2 separate regions of the Homo sapiens genome follow, and region 1 is linked to region 2. The links come from fine-mapping of genetic effects on gene expression. Tissue or cell type: tibial nerve. Region 2 holds a variant in brackets; the other region holds the start of a gene. All regions are shown on one strand. Distances are from middle to middle.

What was found. PIP is the estimated chance that this variant, and not a neighbour inherited with it, causes the effect.
Region 1: CIROZ starts here. The variant in region 2 is fine-mapped to the expression of CIROZ in tibial nerve (GTEx, PIP above 0.99). The same link has a PIP of 0.9 or more in pituitary.

What each region holds. Positions count from the first base shown.
Region 1 is chr1:10,978,087-10,986,261 of GRCh38, forward strand. CIROZ (ciliated left-right organizer protein containing ZP-N domains) reads right to left here and starts at 3,990. Exons shown (of 13, transcript NM_001170754.2): 1 at 3,926-3,990. The coding sequence starts at 3,951.
Region 2 is chr1:10,957,073-10,965,247 of GRCh38, forward strand. It overlaps CIROZ (ciliated left-right organizer protein containing ZP-N domains), which reads right to left. Exons shown (of 13, transcript NM_001170754.2): 5 at 7,056-7,199; 6 at 1,642-1,680; 7 at 544-681; 8 at 1-35. Among named protein-coding and RNA genes, the nearest start is that of CIROZ, 21 kb to the right of the region's middle. RefSeq lists enhancers at 1,389-2,158, 2,928-3,697, 8,144-8,175 and a silencer at 4,000-4,294. The variant C/T (reference allele first, on the strand shown) is at 3,935.

The DNA.
Region 1 (8,175 bases), 21 kb after region 2:
TGAACCCGAGAGGCGGAAGTCGCAGTGAGCTGAGAGCGTGACATTGTACCACTCCAGCCTGGGTGACAAGAACAAAACTCCACAGTAAAAAAAAAAAAAAAAAGTTAGCCACCACGCCCGGCTAATTTATTAGTATTTTTTTTGTAGAGATGGGGTTTCACCATGTTGCCCAGGCTGGTCTCAAACTCCTAAGCTCAAGCGACCCACTCACCTCAGTCTCCCAAAGTGCTGGGATTACAGGCGTGAGCCACTGCACCGAGCCCCCAAATTTCTTTATGTCAGGTAAAACATCACTGAGAGGTGACAGTTGAACCAAGATGGTATGTATGTCACGGAGTCCCGCTGGGCATGGTGGCTTATGCCTATAATCCCAACACTTTGGGAGACTGAGGCAGGAGGATCACTTGAGCCCAGGAGTTTGAGACCAGCCTGGGCAAAATAGCAAGACTCGATGTCTACAAAAAGATTTTAAAATTAACCTGGTGTGGTGGCATGCGCTTGTGGTCCCAGCTACTCAGGAGGCTGAGGTGGGAGGATTGCTTGAGCCTGGGAGGTCTAGGTTGCAATGAGCAATGATTGTCCCACTGCACTCCAGCCTGGGTAACAAAGCGAGACCCTGTCTCAAAAAAAAAGAAAGAGTCCCATGCAAAGACCTGGGGAAGGGCATTCCTCAGCAGAGGAAATAGTCAGTGCACAGCAAACAGTCGGAAATGAGTTTGGTGTGTTTGTGTTTAAGGACTCAAAAGAAGGTCAGTGGAACTAGAGCCAGTGACAGAGGGGCCGCTGGTGGGCAAAAAGGAGAGGGGCAGGCAGGAGCCATGGCCAGGGGTGCAGGCTGGGGTTTTACCATAAAAAATTGTGGGAAGCCCTGGAGAACTCTAAGCAGGGAAGGAAGAGGATCTCACTTTTTTTTTCTTTTTTGAGACTGAGTATCTCACTCTGTCACCCAGGCTGGAGTGCAGTGGCACAGTCTCGGCTCACTGCAATCTCTGCTTCTCAGATTTAAGTGATTCTCGTGCCTCAGCCTCCTGAGTAGCTAGGATTACAGGCGTGTGCCACCACGCCTGGCTAATTTTTGTATTTTTAGTAGAGTCGGGGGTTTCACCATGTTGGCCATGGCTGGTCTTGAGCTCCTGGCTTCAAGTTATTCGCCCACCTCAGCCTCTCAAAATGCTGGGATTACAGGTGTGGGCCACCGCACCCAGGGCAAGGATCTCACATTTTAAAAGACTCTTCGGGCAGCTGAGACTCCAACTATTTAAAATGACTGCAGGCAAGAACCTAAACTTCCCACAAAGAAGCTTTCCTTAGAGGAGTTCAGGAAATAATCCTGAAGCCAGAAGCTGGAAAGAAAGAATGACAGGGAGAGATTGGCAGAATGTGGAGCATTGAGAAAGCTCCTGCCTCCTGGCGGGAGTGAGGTTGGTTCAACCACTCTTGGGAACTGGTAGAATCTACTAAGACTGAACATTCCTCCACCCTTCGACCCAGCGCTTCCTCTCCAACTGCAAGGCAAGCACAAGGGCATCAGAGGACACGTGCAAGACTGTTGACAGCAGTGCTATTATTTCCTGTAACCTGGAAACCACCCCAGCGCCCAGCAGTGGTAGAATGGACCCATTGTGGTCTACTCCTACAATGGAATACTGAACTGCAATGAAAAGAAAGAAACTACTATTGGACGGGTGCAGTGGCTCACGCCTGTAATCCCAGCACTTTGGGAAGCGGAGGCGGGCGGATCACTTGAGGTCAGGGGTTTGAGAGCAGCCTAGCCAACATGGTGAAACCCTATCTCTACTAAAAATACGAAATTAGCCAGGTGCGGTGGCGCATGCCTGTAATCCCAGCTACTCAGGAGGCTGAGGCAGGAAAATCGCTTGAACCTGGGAGGTGGAGGTTGTGGTGAGCCGAGATCTCACCATTGCGCTCCAGCCTGGGCAACAAGAGCAAAACTCCGTCTCAAAAAAAAGAAAGAAAGAAAGTTAACAGTTTAAAAAGCAATGTGAAAAGGCAGGAATGGGTGCTGCATTTCCTTCTAGGGCTGCCCTCGTTGAGCCATTCGATTCCTGGGTGGGCAGAGGGCCAGGGCCTCAGGCCCAGCCCAGGGAGGCCAAATGCCAGGGCCCACAGTCTCCCCAGAGTGGGTTGGCAAAGAATGACAGGACTGGTTCCCCAGCCTGGAATCTAAGCTGAGCCTGCAGCCTTTGAGCTGGGAGGAGCTTGCGGCTGCCTGGCTGCCCCGCTGCCCCGCTTCATTCGCTGAATTCAGAAGCGCCTGTGGCGAGCCTCTCCCATGGACGGCCGGGTACCCGCCCTGGGCTCTGCTGCCTGGACACTGAGCCCAATGCGGAATTCCTCTCCCAGCAGCGGGGAGGCGCTATTATTAGTTGATTAATTTGCAAAACAAAAACCTGGCTGGGGCAATTGGTCTTGAAGGAAGGTTCTCCCAGAGCGAGTAAATCTGAGACAGGACCAGAAGAATAATCTTGGGGAAAAGGAAAGTGGCTGACTCTGGTGCTGAGTCCCGGCCTTGCCAGGGACCCCGACTCTGCTGTTACACAGGGAATGCTGTCTGGAATCGGCCCGGTGGCAGGTGGGGGGTAGACAGCTCTCCCCTCCGTCTGATGCCTGCTCCTGTTCTCCTCCTTGAGCATCAATCGGGAGAAAGATGTGGGTTTGGGTTTTTCCCCCTCACTTCTCAGACCCAGAACTGCCCCATCCCAGTCTGGGGGGAGACATGATGCTCCATCCCCCAAAGCTGAGCCCCCTCATGGGGCATCCAGGAGAAGGCAATGGGTCCCCAGGACAGGGCCCGGACCTCCCCCTTGCTCGCCCAGCCCCACAAAGCCCCACTCAGCTTCTCCACTGCCTTCATTGTCTACAGACTTCAACCTCACAAAACGCCCAACAAAAGCCCTGCAGTCCACGGCCCAAAGGCCACAAGCCAGCTATTGTGACATTCCAGCTGGCCTGGGAGGCTTCACTTCCCACTCTCAGGAGCTTTTTAAAGTATCTCTTAAAAATGCATCTCAGATGGGGAAAAGAGGTAGCAATTCTGTTGCCAAGGAAAATGAGATTTTGGCCAAGTGCAGTGAGTCATGCCCGTAATCCCAATACTTTGGGAGGCCGAGACAGGAGGATGGCTTGAACCCAGGAGTTTAAGACCAGCCTGGGCAACACAGTAAGACCCTGTCTCTACAAAAAAATTAAAAAATTACCAAAGTGTGGTGGCACATGCCTATGGTCCCAGCTACTCAGGAGGCTAAAGTGGGATGATCACTTGAGCCCAGGAGTTAAGAGATGACAGTGAACTATGATCTTGCCACTGCACTCCAGCCTGGGCAACAGAGCAAGACTCTATCTCAGGAAGAAGGAGAGACAGAGAGGGAGAGAGAGAGAGAAAGAGAAAAGAAAGGAAAGGGAAGGAAGGAAGGAGAAAGGAAGGAAGGCAGGGAGGGAAGGAAGGAAGGGAGGGAAGGAAGGAAAATGAAATTTTCTCCTAATCCTTACAATCGAATAGCTAGCGACCACAACTCCTATCATTTGAAAACTCCTTGAAATCAAGCATCTCTTGGTCAACTTGACCCCTAATTTGTTTTGTTTTAAGGACCCTCTAGGACAAGGAAGACGTGTTCTGTTTTCTCCCAATCTTCTGGAAATCCTTCCCAAGATGGGAGGACTGGAATTCCAGAACAAGGGATGACAGGAGCATGAGAAAGGTGGGAGAGACTGTGGCCGGACCTCACCTGAGAAAGTCAGCCCTTCCCAAGGCATCCATGCATCTGGGCCCCTCACCCATTTGGCCCCCTTCCCTCTTAGATGCAAGGCTTCTGATTCTGATGGAAGATATTTGGCTTCTTCAAGGAGTGTGGGCACACTAAGCATGCCACTGGCTTCTCCCAATTCCTGAATAAGGGACACTTACCAGGCAAGTGCTGGGGACCCCCACATCCTCAGGCCCAGCAGCTCTCTCCTGCCCTGGGAGAATTTAATCTGAAGCAGTTCCAAGCAACTAAACGAAAGGTTGGCTCCTCCCCTTCCCCTCCAGTGCAGGTCTCGGGTCACTCAGGTGCCAGAAAACACAGGTGGGTGTCAACACTCTCAGCTTCTCCCCATCCCTCTGCATGGGTGAGATGAATTGCTTCAGCCGTGGGAGCTCAAAATAAGATTGCGGATCAGAAGGCTGAAGATGAATTGATCCACTGAGGCTGGAGTGCAGGCCCTCATTCTCCGCTCCCGGGAGAAGCCTGTCTCTGTGCCCAAGGAAGGAAAGAAGCTAAGAAACTGAGCTTCACCGGAGGAACAGTCACGCTGTCTTGATGGGGCTTCCCAGAACCCTGCTCCAGGCCCCTCCTGGCAGAGTTCAAAAGGAGCTGAGGGGCCAGGCATGGTGGCTCATGCCTGTAACCCCAGCATTTTGGGATGCAGAGATGGGCAGATTGTTTGAGGTCAGGAGTTCGAAACAAGCCAGGGGAACATGGCAAGACCCTGTCTCTACAAAAAATTTAAAAACTAGCTGGGCATGGTGGCACACACCTGTGGTCCTAGCTACTCAGGAGGCTGAGGTGAGAGGATTGCTTGAGCCCAGGAGGTTGAGGCTGCAGTGAGCCCTGATTGTGCTACTGCACTCCAGCCTGGGCAACAGAACAAGACCCTGTCTAAAAAAAAAAAAAAAAGGGGCCGGGCACAGTCACTCATGCCCATAATCCCAGTGATTTGGGAGGGCGAGGCAGGCTGATCACCTGATGTCAGGACTTCGAGACCAGCCTGGCCAACATGGTGAAACCTTATCTCTACTAAAAATACAAAACTAGCCAGGTGTGGGGGTGCACGCCTGTAATCCCAGCTACTTGGGAAGTTAAGGCAGGAGAATTGCTTGAACCCGGGAGATGGAGGTTGCAGTGAGCCAAGATCGTACCATTGTACTGCAGCCTGGGTGACAAGAGCAAAACTCCGTCTAAAAAAAAAAAAAAAAAAAAAAAAAAAAAAAAAAAAAAAAAAAAAGACCAGGCGCAGTGACTCACGCCTGTAATCCTAGCACTTTGGGAGGCTGAGGTGGGTGGATCATCAGGTCAGGAGTTTGAGACCAGCCTGGCCAACATGGTGAAACCCTGTCTCTACCAAAAATACAAAAAATAGCCGGGCTTGGTGGTGGGCACCTGTAATCCCAGCTACTCTGGAGGCTGAGGCAGGAGAATCGCTTGAACCTGGAAGGCAGAGATTGCAGACAGCTGAGATCGTGCCATTGCACTCCAGCCTGGGCGATACAATAAGACTCCGTCTCAAAAAAAAAAAAAAAAAGGAAGAGGAGATTAGGGCACGGACACATACGGAGGAATGACGGTGTGAGGACACAGGGAGAAGATGGCCAGCTGTGAGCCAGAGAGGCAGCTCCGGAGAAACCAGCCCTGCCTGCACCTTGATCTCAGACTCCTAGCCTCTAGAACTGTGAAGAAATCAATTGGTGTGTAAATCCCAAGTCTGTGGTACTCTGTCGTGGCAGCCCTTGCAAACAAATATCCCTGCAAAATGAGGATTTAGGACTAGATGGTTCCTAATACCCTTTGCAAGTGAAAAAAAAAAAAAGTCTTGATTTTAACTATTCCATTTTATCTGTGTTTATCCCTTCCTCCCCCCGCCCCAAATACTTGCCATTATTGAAAGTCGAGGAAGCCAGGCACAGTGGCTCACTCCAGCCTGGGCAACAGAGCAAGATTGTATCTCAGGAAGAGAGACAGAGAGGGAGAGAGAGAAAGAGAGCCTGTAATCCCAACATTTTAGGAGGCTGAGGTTGGCAGATCACCTGAGGTCAGGAGTTCGAGACCAGCCTGGCCAATATGGCGAAACCCCATCTCTACTAAAATTACAAAAATTAGCCGGGCATGATGGCACACGCCTGTAATCCCAGCTACTCAGGAGGCTGAGGCAGGAGAATCGCTTGAACCCAGGAGGCGGAGGTTGCAAGTGATCCAAGATGGCGCCACTGCATTCTAGCCTGGGTGATGAGCGAAACTCCATCTCAAAAAAAAAAAAAAAAACCAGAAACTAATTATCTCCCAGGTTTAGAGGCCAGAAGTCCAAAATCCAGGTGTCAGCAGGGCCACGATCTCTCTAAAGATCCCAGGGGAGGGTCGTTCCCTGCCTCTTCCTAGCTTCTAGTGGCTGGTGGCAGTCCTGGGTGTCCTGGGCTTGTAGCTGCATCACTCCCATCTCTGCCTCCGTCACCAGCATATGGTATTCTTCCTGGGTGTCTCTGTCCACATTTTTCTTTTTCTTTTTTTTTTTTTTGAGAGAGAGTCTCACTCTGTCACCGGGCTGGAGTACAGGGGCACTAAGTGCTGGGATTACAGGCCTGAGCCACCACGCCCGGCCCCAATTTTCCTCTTCTTATAAAGACTCTAATTACTGGATTAAGGGCCAGCCTAATCCAGTATGACCTCACTTAACTTGATTGCATCAGCAAAGACCCTATTTCTAAATAAGGTCACATTCCCACATATCTGGGATTTGGCTTTTTTTTTTTTCTTTGAGACAGGGTCCTACTCTGTCACCCAGGCATGAGTGCAATGGTGCAATCACGGTTCACTGCAGCCTCGACCTCCTGGGTTCAAGCAATCCTCCTGTTTCAGCCTCCTGAGTAACTGAGAATACAGGCACACACCACCATGCTTGGATGATTTTTAAATTTTTTCTAGAGACAAAAGAGACCAGAGGGAACAGCCACGGTGGCTCACGCCTGTAATCCCAGCACATTGGGAGGCTGAGGTGGGCAGATCACTTGAGGTCAGGAGTTTGAGGCCAGCCTGGCCAACATGGTGAAACCCCATCTCTACTAAAAATACAAAAATTAGCCAGGCATCATGGCGCATATCACTCATTCTAGCTACTCGGGAGGTTGAGGCACGAGAATCACTTGAACCCAGGAGGCAGAGGTTGCAGTGAGCTGAGATCACACCACTGCACTCCAGCCCGGGCGACAGAGCAAGACCCTATCTCAAAAAACAAACAAACAAGAGACAGAGACCAGAGGTCTCTGAGATGGGGTCCGTACGAAAGATACCACTACGTTGTCCAGGCTGGTCTCAAACTTCTAGGCTCAAGTGATTCTCCTGCCTCAGGCTTCCAGAGTGCTGAGATTACAGGTGTGAGCCACTGCACCCAGCCTGTTTCTCTTTTTCTTTTCTTTTTTTGAGACGGAGTTTCACTCTGTCACCCAGGCTGGAGTGCAGTGGCACGATCTCTGCTCACTGCAACCTCCACCTCCCAGGTTCAAGCAATTCTCTGCCTCATCCTCCCGAGTAGCTGGGATTACAGGCACCTGCCACCACGCCTGGCTAATTTTTTGTATTTTTAGTAGAGGCGGGGTTTCACCATCTTGGCCAGGCTGAACTTAAATTCCTGACCTCGAGATCCACCCGCCTCAGCCTCCCAAAGTGCTGGGATTACAAGCGTGAGCCACCACACCCAGCCCTGTTTCTCTTTTTAACTCATCTTTTTGTTGACCAACTTTTCCTTTAATCCCAAATTGCTCGGGATTTATCATGAGCCGCCTAAGAAGACATGGAGTTGGAAGTGGAGACCCAGAGTGGTGCATGGAAGCTGGTTGTCACCAGGATCTGTTCACGCTCAGGTGAAAGGCCCTCATCACACCAAACAGAAGCAGGCAGGATCAGAACACACAGCTGGTGAAACCCTCACGGGCCCTGGAGGAGGCCCAGATGCCCTGGCCCACTTCATAAGGCCTCAAACAGAAACGCCAAAGCCAGGGCAAACATCACTGGTACACAGCTCACTCAGAGAACCTGCAAGGACCACCCTGGAGCTGTTGTTTAAATCTTAAAAAGAGAAGAAGAAACAGGAATTGAAAAACAGGTTTTCTTTCCTAATCTGATACCCTAAACCCCATTCCTCCTACACACACACGCACACACCTATAAACATAGCCACAGACATCTCTACACACACACCCTGAAACCCACCTACACACACAACCCTATACAAAACTCTTAGCATATGCCCCACACACTCCTAGAAATGCGCGCGCACACACACACACGCAGTAGGGGCTCCCGTCTTAGATATTTTTAGAGAAAGCAATTTCATTGGGGTCTTTCCAGTGGAGCTCAAATTTCATTTCTCCATTTGGGAAAATCACATTTTCAAAATAGCTTTCTT
Region 2 (8,175 bases):
CATAGTGGCAGGAGCTCAGCAGAGGTGTTCAGCACCTGGGGAGGAAGGGGGGTCCCCCCTGAGGTCTCCAAAACTGCTCCTTCCAGATGCAGACTCCCTCCACAGGGGCCCCCTCTCCTACCTTCGAATTAGTCTCTGAACTAAAGCCCCAAGTGTTACAAAGCCCAGGTCAGGGATTATGGCGCCGATGCAACTAGGAAATATTATTTAGCTGAGATATTTTTAGCAGGAAGCGAGCTCAGAGCAAATGTCATGTGAGCCGTCTTCTCTTACACAGCAACTTTGGGCTATTTAAAGAGACGGTAATTACGCTCCTGCCGCCATGATCAGGACGCACTGAATGCATGATTGCAGGAGCCCCTCATCTGCAGAGCGGAGCGCTTTACGCTAATGGGGCCCAATTTTCGAAGGCGCCTGCCTAAATCTGTCCAGTCTCGCAGGTGGACATTTGACTTGTCACTGGAGGGGTGGCAACCTGCTCTTCTAGGTGCTATGCCCCAGAGGCCCCTCACCTCCTGGCAGAGCCTGCTGCCCACCACTGACCTCCCACCTCTGAAGAAGGCCTTGTCTCGGGCTTTGGACGGTGACAGTGGTGGCATTCATGTCCACATACAGTCCCATCAGGCTGGCGTCTTCAAGAGAAGCCACCAGCTCCCCTCGAAGGGACAGCAGCCATGGAGTCTGGAGAAAGAGGACACGATCACAAACCATGTGGCCAGGGAGGCACGGTCACTAGGGGTTACGGAGAGGGGACACTTGAAGGGTCACCTAGGAAGGCAACAGGGTCACGGGGAGGATAATCTAGGCCAGGAGGCAGGACGGCAGGCCACTCTGGGAGGAGAGTCAACCAGACGCTAGCACGCTTATACTTTAGGGTAGGAGGTCCCTTGCAGGGGTGCCTGGCACACAGTAGGTGTACAACGCAACTGAAAGAACGAACACACAGTTACCCCTAACAGCAATGCCAACCAGTCGGCCCCTATGCCGCCCTGGCTGGGCACAACTGGAGTCCTGTCCTTGGCTCTGTTTGCCACCCTTTAGTGGGACATGGGAATCAGGGTCTTGAATAAAGGTGAGGGCCAGATGCGGGCAGAGGGACAGGGAAGGGTCGCCAGCTCCCATCTCAGGAGGACTGGCAGGGAGACATCAGGAAGACTTGGGGAGGTCAAGCTCACTGACCCCAAATATTCAAAGGGATGTGAAATGGAGAAGAGGGACTGGATCCTTCGGGGAGGCTGCGGGAAACACTCAAAGGACCAGCAGAAGGAAAATTCGGGAAACACCTGTGCAACATGGAACAAGCTCCTTACAAAGGAACAAGCTCCCTGTCACTGGAGACTTGGCAGAGAGAATCTTAGCACAGGAAGGACCTTACAGCCTTCCAACCCAGCCTCCCACCCAAAGCTGGGGTCCCCTCTTCAAGATTGTTCTCAGATGGCCTCAGGCCTCTGCCTGGAGGGCATCAGTGGGAGCTTCAAACTTCAGCCGGCAAGACCTGGTCCTTGAAGAGTCTGTACCATCCACGACACTCTCCGGAGGACAAGCAAACTCAAAAGCTGCCTCAGAGCATCCTGAGCACCCACCAGTCCTAGCAGAAACTTCCAGAGAGTTGCTCCTGCTACTTCAATGGGGCCCGCTTACCTGTCTATTGTCCCTCCACAGGGGCAGGGGCCGGGAGACCTGCAGAGACAAAGAGGAAGCAATGTCTCCTGCAAGCGGTGAGCAAAGGTGAGCAAACATCCCTGCCTGTGCCCATCAGCACCGGCAATTACCCCAGCAGGAGGCCGGTGAGAGAGCTGTGCCGCAGGGTTGTTTGCTCATTAAGACAAGAAAATCATTTATGTTCTGGGACTCGAGTGTCAACAGACGCAGGGAAATGTCACTGCCTCAGCTGCCATCCTAGGCCCGGCCAAGGGGGCAGCTGGGGTCCTGGGCGCAGCTGGTGAGGCCAAGAGCGGGTGTGCATGGGACCAACCCTGCTCACGGCCCACTTCCATTGGGGCTGTTTCCTAGGCCTCTTGTCTGTTTTTCTCCCTAAGTCCCAATTTCTTTCTCGCCCTTTTTCTTTCCACTTTGGATCCAACTAGCAGAAGTAGAGAGTGAGGGCTTCTACGGTCCCAGAGAGTACACATGTGCCCCCCAATGGCACCATTCTTAGGGGCACCAACCATCCCGGTTCCCCAGCAGTGGGGAGGTTCCCCTGATGTGGGATTTTCAGTGCTAAAACTGAGACAGGCCCAGGCAAACCGAGACAGTGGTTTCTCGTACCGCGCCTGAGTCTCACAGCCATCCCGTAGGGTGGCACCATTCTCCCGTTTCACAGACCAGGGCCCAAGGTGATGGCGTGGGCAAGGCACCTTCCCCAAAACCCCTCTGCAGCCAGTGCCACCCCACCCAGGTGCTCTCTCAAGTCTCTCTACTTTCTCCAAATGCCCCTTTGCCTTTGCGTCAGACTTGGCCAGGGAGGTTGTGGCACCGGACAGAGTCACAGACCAGCAGAGGGTCCCTCGGAGACCATCAGACCCCCTCTCCTACCCAATACAGAATGAGGAGACTGGAGCCAGAGTGGACTGACTCATCTTGACAGCTCCCCAACTCAAGGCTACCCACCTCTTCTCCCCAGGGGCAAAGAAGGGCTTCCAGAAGCAGAAAGGAGTGGGTGGGGCCAGGAAAAGGCCCGCCACCACCATGCAGCCTCCCCAGTTGCCCAGCTCGGCTGTTCCTTGGCCCCAGAGAGCCCATGTTGGCAGCAGGCTCGGGCTGCCCACAGGGAGCCCCTCGGGTCAGCCCTGTGATGGCCTTGCTTTTAGGGGGTGCTGCCTTCCCTTGGGGAGCAAAGTGGAAGAAATGGAGGAGATGTCCACAAGGTCTGGCAGAATGAGGAGGATGCGGCAATTCCTCAACAACACCACCAAAGCTGCACCATGGTGCCCCAGCCCATCTCCCCTGCTGAACCAGGAAGAAGACAGAGAGGCCCCCAGAGGCCAGGCTGTAAGAAGGAGGGAAGCAATTCTGCTAAAAGAAGGAAGGGAAGGCCAGGTGCAGTGGCTCATGCCTGGAATCTCAGCACTTTGGGAGGCTGAGGCGGGTGGATCACCTGAGCTCAGGAGTTCCAGACCAGCCTGGGCAACATGGTGAAACCCCATCTTTACCGAAAATACAAAAAATAAAAAATAAAAAAATTAGCCAGGAGTGGTGGCAGGCGCCTGTAGTCCCAGCTACTCAGGAGGCTGAGGCACGAGGTTCGCTTCAACCTGGGAGGCGGAAGTTGCAGTGAACTGAGATTGTCCCACTCACTCCAGCCTGGGCGACTCTGGCCAGAGTGAGACTCTGTCTCCAAGAAAAAAAAAGAAAGGAAGGGAAGACGTGACAAGTACGCAGCCAAAACGCACCGTGCCCTTTAAGTCGCCAGGAGGAGGCTATATTTAGGGCCCGTGGACATTCCGCAGGAGCTCGGGCAGCCTTCACTGGGAGCAATCGCTAATCACTGCATTGAGTTTACGGGTGCCCCTGGGCACACTTAACCCAGGGCAATGAATAGTTATTGCGCGGCCTCCCGCTCGGGGCCTGTGGGCACACTTAAGCGAGCTCGCAGATCGCTGCGAGCAGGGCACGGCTCGGGTACACCCTTGGGCACCCTGCGCCATCAGCGGGGAGAGGCAGAGTATTAAATATCTATGTGCCCTGTGCCCACAGCTGCATTTAGCCAAGGGCAAGGCCGGTGAAACGGCTTTAATTAAAACTTAATGCAAGTTCAAGGTGCAGCCACGGAAGTGGCGGCTGCAGAAGTCACCAGGAATGAATCAGTCAATTCGATGAGGTTCTCAGATGGGGGAAGGGGCTGGAGGGGAGGCGGGGGCAGCAGAGACCTGCCTCTGCTCCTTGTGTGCTGCCTACCTCTGTGCGACTCTGTTTACGGATGCAGAGCCCCCCC[C/T]ACCCACCTGCTCCCACACCTCGGTCAGTGAAGGATGCCAGGGACTGGGGCATTGGGGCATCTGGGCTTCAAGGGCAGGACGATGGAGACCAAGCGGCGCCCGAGTGAGGAGTCGTTTCTGCTTTTCTCAGCAATTCGGCCCAGGCCCACTGTCGTGTGAGGACAGCAACACCGTCCCCCTAGCGGCGGCTTCCAGAATCACAGGCTCAGTGCAAAGGGAGCAGTAACCAGCCCCGGGATGTCAAACAGGTGCCCTGGCAGCCCTGCTTGGGGATCCCGGGGCGGGGCCGGCCCCGCAATTCTTAGGTGCACCAACACTGGCTTTGGCGTGGCCACTCTGAGCCCTTAATAAAGGTAGGTGGGCAGAGGAAGCCCCTCCCGCTCAGCCCCTGCTCCTTCAGGTTAAGAAGCAAAGGAACTTTAGAGAGTCCAACATGGCAGTGAGCCGGGCTCAGAGCGGAGATGAGCCCAGGTCTTCTGAGCTGGGCTGGTGCAGGGGCCCTTCCCACCACAGCACACTCATTTTTGAAGCTCAGATCAGATGAGAAGAAAGCGATAAGCTCTTCCTGGGGCAAGTCATGCCTTGGTCGTATCTGTTCCCTCAGCAGCAGCACAGGGCTGGGCATACAATAGATGCTCAATAAATGCTTGTTGGGGCCAGGCGCGGCAGCTCACGCCTGTAATCCTAGCATTTTGGGAGGCCAAGGCAGGTGGATCGGTTGAGGTCAGGAGTTCGAGACTAGCCTGGCCAACATGGTGAAACCCCATCTCTACTAAAAACGCAAAAAATATTTTAAAAATCAACTGGCTTTAATTAAACTGGTGGTGGCGCATGCCTGTGATCCCATGAGAATCGCTTGAACCCAGGAGGCAGAGGTTACAGTGAGCCGAGATCACACCGCTGTACGCCAGCCTAGGCAACAGAGCGAGACTCTGTCTCAAAATAAATAAATGAACAAATGCTTGTTGGATAAATGGTGTTTGTCATCAGCAGCCTTTTCACTCCAACCTCCTCCTCTCAGTTCTGCCTTCCTCTCCTTTCTCTTCCTCCTTCCTTCCTCCTCCTCCTCACAGACAGAAGATGCCCACCCAAATCCCTCAGGCCAAATCCAGCACTTTGTTTGAGCCGCACAGTGCCTACAAAATTAAAGTGACTTGACCGGGCGTGGTGGCTCACACCTGTAATCCCAGCACTTTGGGAGGCCGAGGCAGGCGGATCACTTGAGGTCAGGAGTTCTAGACCAGCCTGGCCAACATGAGGAAACCCCGTCTCTACCAAAAATATAAAAAATTAGCCGAGTATGGTAATGCATGCCTGTAATCCCAGCTACTCGTGAGGCTGAGGCAGGAGAATCACTTGAACCCAGGAGGCGAAAGTTGCAGTGAGCTGAGATCACGCCACTGCACTCCAGCCTGGGTGACAGAACGAGACTGCATCTCAAAAAAATAAATAAATAAAGTGAACTTTTTTTAACTGGAGGATTTCACATACAATTATAGATTTCCAGTTTATCTTGAAATGTTGGAAAATCTGGCAAAATGGGGCTGGAGTGCAGTCCAGCCTCAGCTCCCTCTGTAGGGGGCCAGGACTGTAGGTTGTGCCTGTTCCAGCATCCCCAGCCCCCACCATGTGGTCTGGCTCAAAGCCCAGCTCTGTTGCTACCAGCTGGCAAGTCTCCTAATCTCTCTCTGCTTAGTTCTCTCACCTGCAGAATGGGGATCAATATAGAACCAACTACATAGAATCGCTATGAAGGTGAGATGAGTTAATATTTGCAAAGTGAGTAGAACGGCACCCAGCACAGAATGAGCCATATATAAGTGTTTGCTGGGCCAGGCGTAGTGGCCCACGCCTATAATCCCAGGGCTTTGAGAGGCCAAGGTGAGAGGATCGCCTGAAGCCAGGAGTTTGAGACCAGCCTGGGCAACACAGTGAGACGCCGTCTCTACAAAAAATTTGAACATTAGCTGGGCATGGTGTCATACGCCTATAGTCCCAGCTACTTGGGAGGCTGAAGTGGGAGGATCCCTTAAGCTCAGGAGGTCAAGGCTGCAGTGAGCCTGCGTGACGGAGCAAGATCCTGTCTCTTTAAAAAAACAGGCCGGGTGCAGTGGCTCCCACCTGTAATCCCAGCACTTTGGGAGGCTGGGGCAGGTGGATCATTTGAGGTCAGGAGTTCAAGACCAGCCTGGCCAACATGGTGAAACTCCATCTCTACTAAAAATACAAAAATTAGCAGGGCATGGTGGCACACACCTCTAATCCTAGCTACTTGGGAGGCTGAGGCAGGAGAATCGCTTGAACCCAGGAGGCAGATGTTGCAGAGAGCCGAGATTGCACCACTGCACTCCAGCCTGGGCAACAGAGCAAGACTCCATCTCAAAAAAACAAACAAACAAACAAACAAAAAAACCCAGCTGACTAAATGAAGGAATGAGTAAAATTCTTTATTGCTTCCTCCTCAGTCCAGCACGCTCATTTCTGTGGCGGGTTTGGTCCCTATAGATGTTTGGGTTTCTAGCCCTCCCCACTCCCATCCAAATCATGTTTAGCTTACAGAGGTGCCCCGCTGATGAGAGCTAGAGAGAAACTTGAATTCAAGGAGCACACACGGCCATGAAAGAGCTCACAGTTGGATGTGGGGCTCAACCTTTCTTCCCTGATGTTTAAAATGTAGACATTGCACCTGATCGTACCTGGGGTCTATAACTCTTTGACATTACCCAGGTCAAAAAAAAAAAGCATCCAAACTAGCAAATTTAGCAAATTTTTTCAATCCAGAGAGAAAGGACACAAAGATGCAATTTTGCAGCTTTGGTGATAACCCGACTGGCCCCCTGAGCCAGCCAAGATGGGAAATCCAGAACCCGAGGTCAGAGAGCTTTAATCCCCCCTCCCCTCCCATCTCACTCGTCCTTGCTCAGAACCCAACCCAGCAGAGACCTAGCCAGTACCCAGGGATGTCTAGGAGAACAATGCCATACTGCATCTGCAGCTACCACCTGTCTCCCTGGGCCACGTCCTGTGGTGCAGGAGCCAGGGCCACCTGCCTTGGCCTTTAGAGAGAAGCCCAGCCTGGGAGGTCCCTCTGCCACCTCCCAGACCCCCCGAACCCATTACCTGGATGAACATGGGCCCACAGTGGACGCTTTCCTGGCCCAGCCTTGACCTTAGCATCGGACACTTCATTATGTAGCGATCACTCCGCTCCAACCCCATCACCCCTTTCTGAAATATTCTGATTTCCAGCCTGTAATTTGCTTTCTGGAAGTAGGGCAAAATTCATGTATGCAAATGAGAGAGGAAAATACAGTTAATAGCCTGCAATTATAGGTCAGTCCCTGTTCACAGCAAATAGGACACCATGAACCTCCTAGAAGGTGGGCTTGTGGAAGAGGGATGGGAAACGAGACCAAGGTCGACACCAACACGGAGCTTGGGTCTGGCTCTGGAAGCTCAGCCCCCACCAAGGAAGCCCTCCAGGCTGGGGAGCATTTGGGGATTTGGGGAAGGTCAAACCTAGTCAGACAGAATAAGAGCTTGCGTCCTAATGTCCCTTGAGAGTTGACAAATATTTGTTCACACTTTATCTCCTTTGATGCTCACCAGTGTCTCATAAGGCTGGGCTATTTTTTGTTGTTGAGACACAGTCTCATTCAGTCACCCAGGCTGGAGTGCAATGGCCTGATCTTGGCTCACTGCAACCTCCACCTCCCGGGTTCAAGCAATTCTTGTGCCTCAGCCTCCCAAGTAGCTGGAATTACAGGCAGACGCCAACACGCCCGTCTAATTTTTGTATTTTTAGTAGAGATGGGGTTTCACCATGTTGGCCAGGCTGGTGTTGAACTCCTGGCCTCAAGTGATCCGCTCATCTTGGCCTCCCAAAGTGCTGGGATTACAGGCGTGAGCCACCAAGCCCAGCCAAGGCTGGGTTTATGAGACATAAAATTCCCATTTTACAGATGAGGCAGTTGAGGCTTAGAGAAGGTAAATGACTAAGCCAAAGGCATGTGGCCATTTCTGAGACTAGATGTGAGAGCTGGTCTAGCTCATTCCGGTACAAGGCGGACTTCAAAGATGTCAAACCAATGGGTCCCTCTGCCCCTCCCAGGCTGCCCTCATTCAGCCACATAAGAAGAACCCAAGTCTAAGCTTTGCGGTGGGGCCTGAGAAGGGTGACGGGGCTGTCAGAGAAGGGCGACCACAGAGAGGAAGAGAAAGAGGAGGAGCAGGGTAGTTC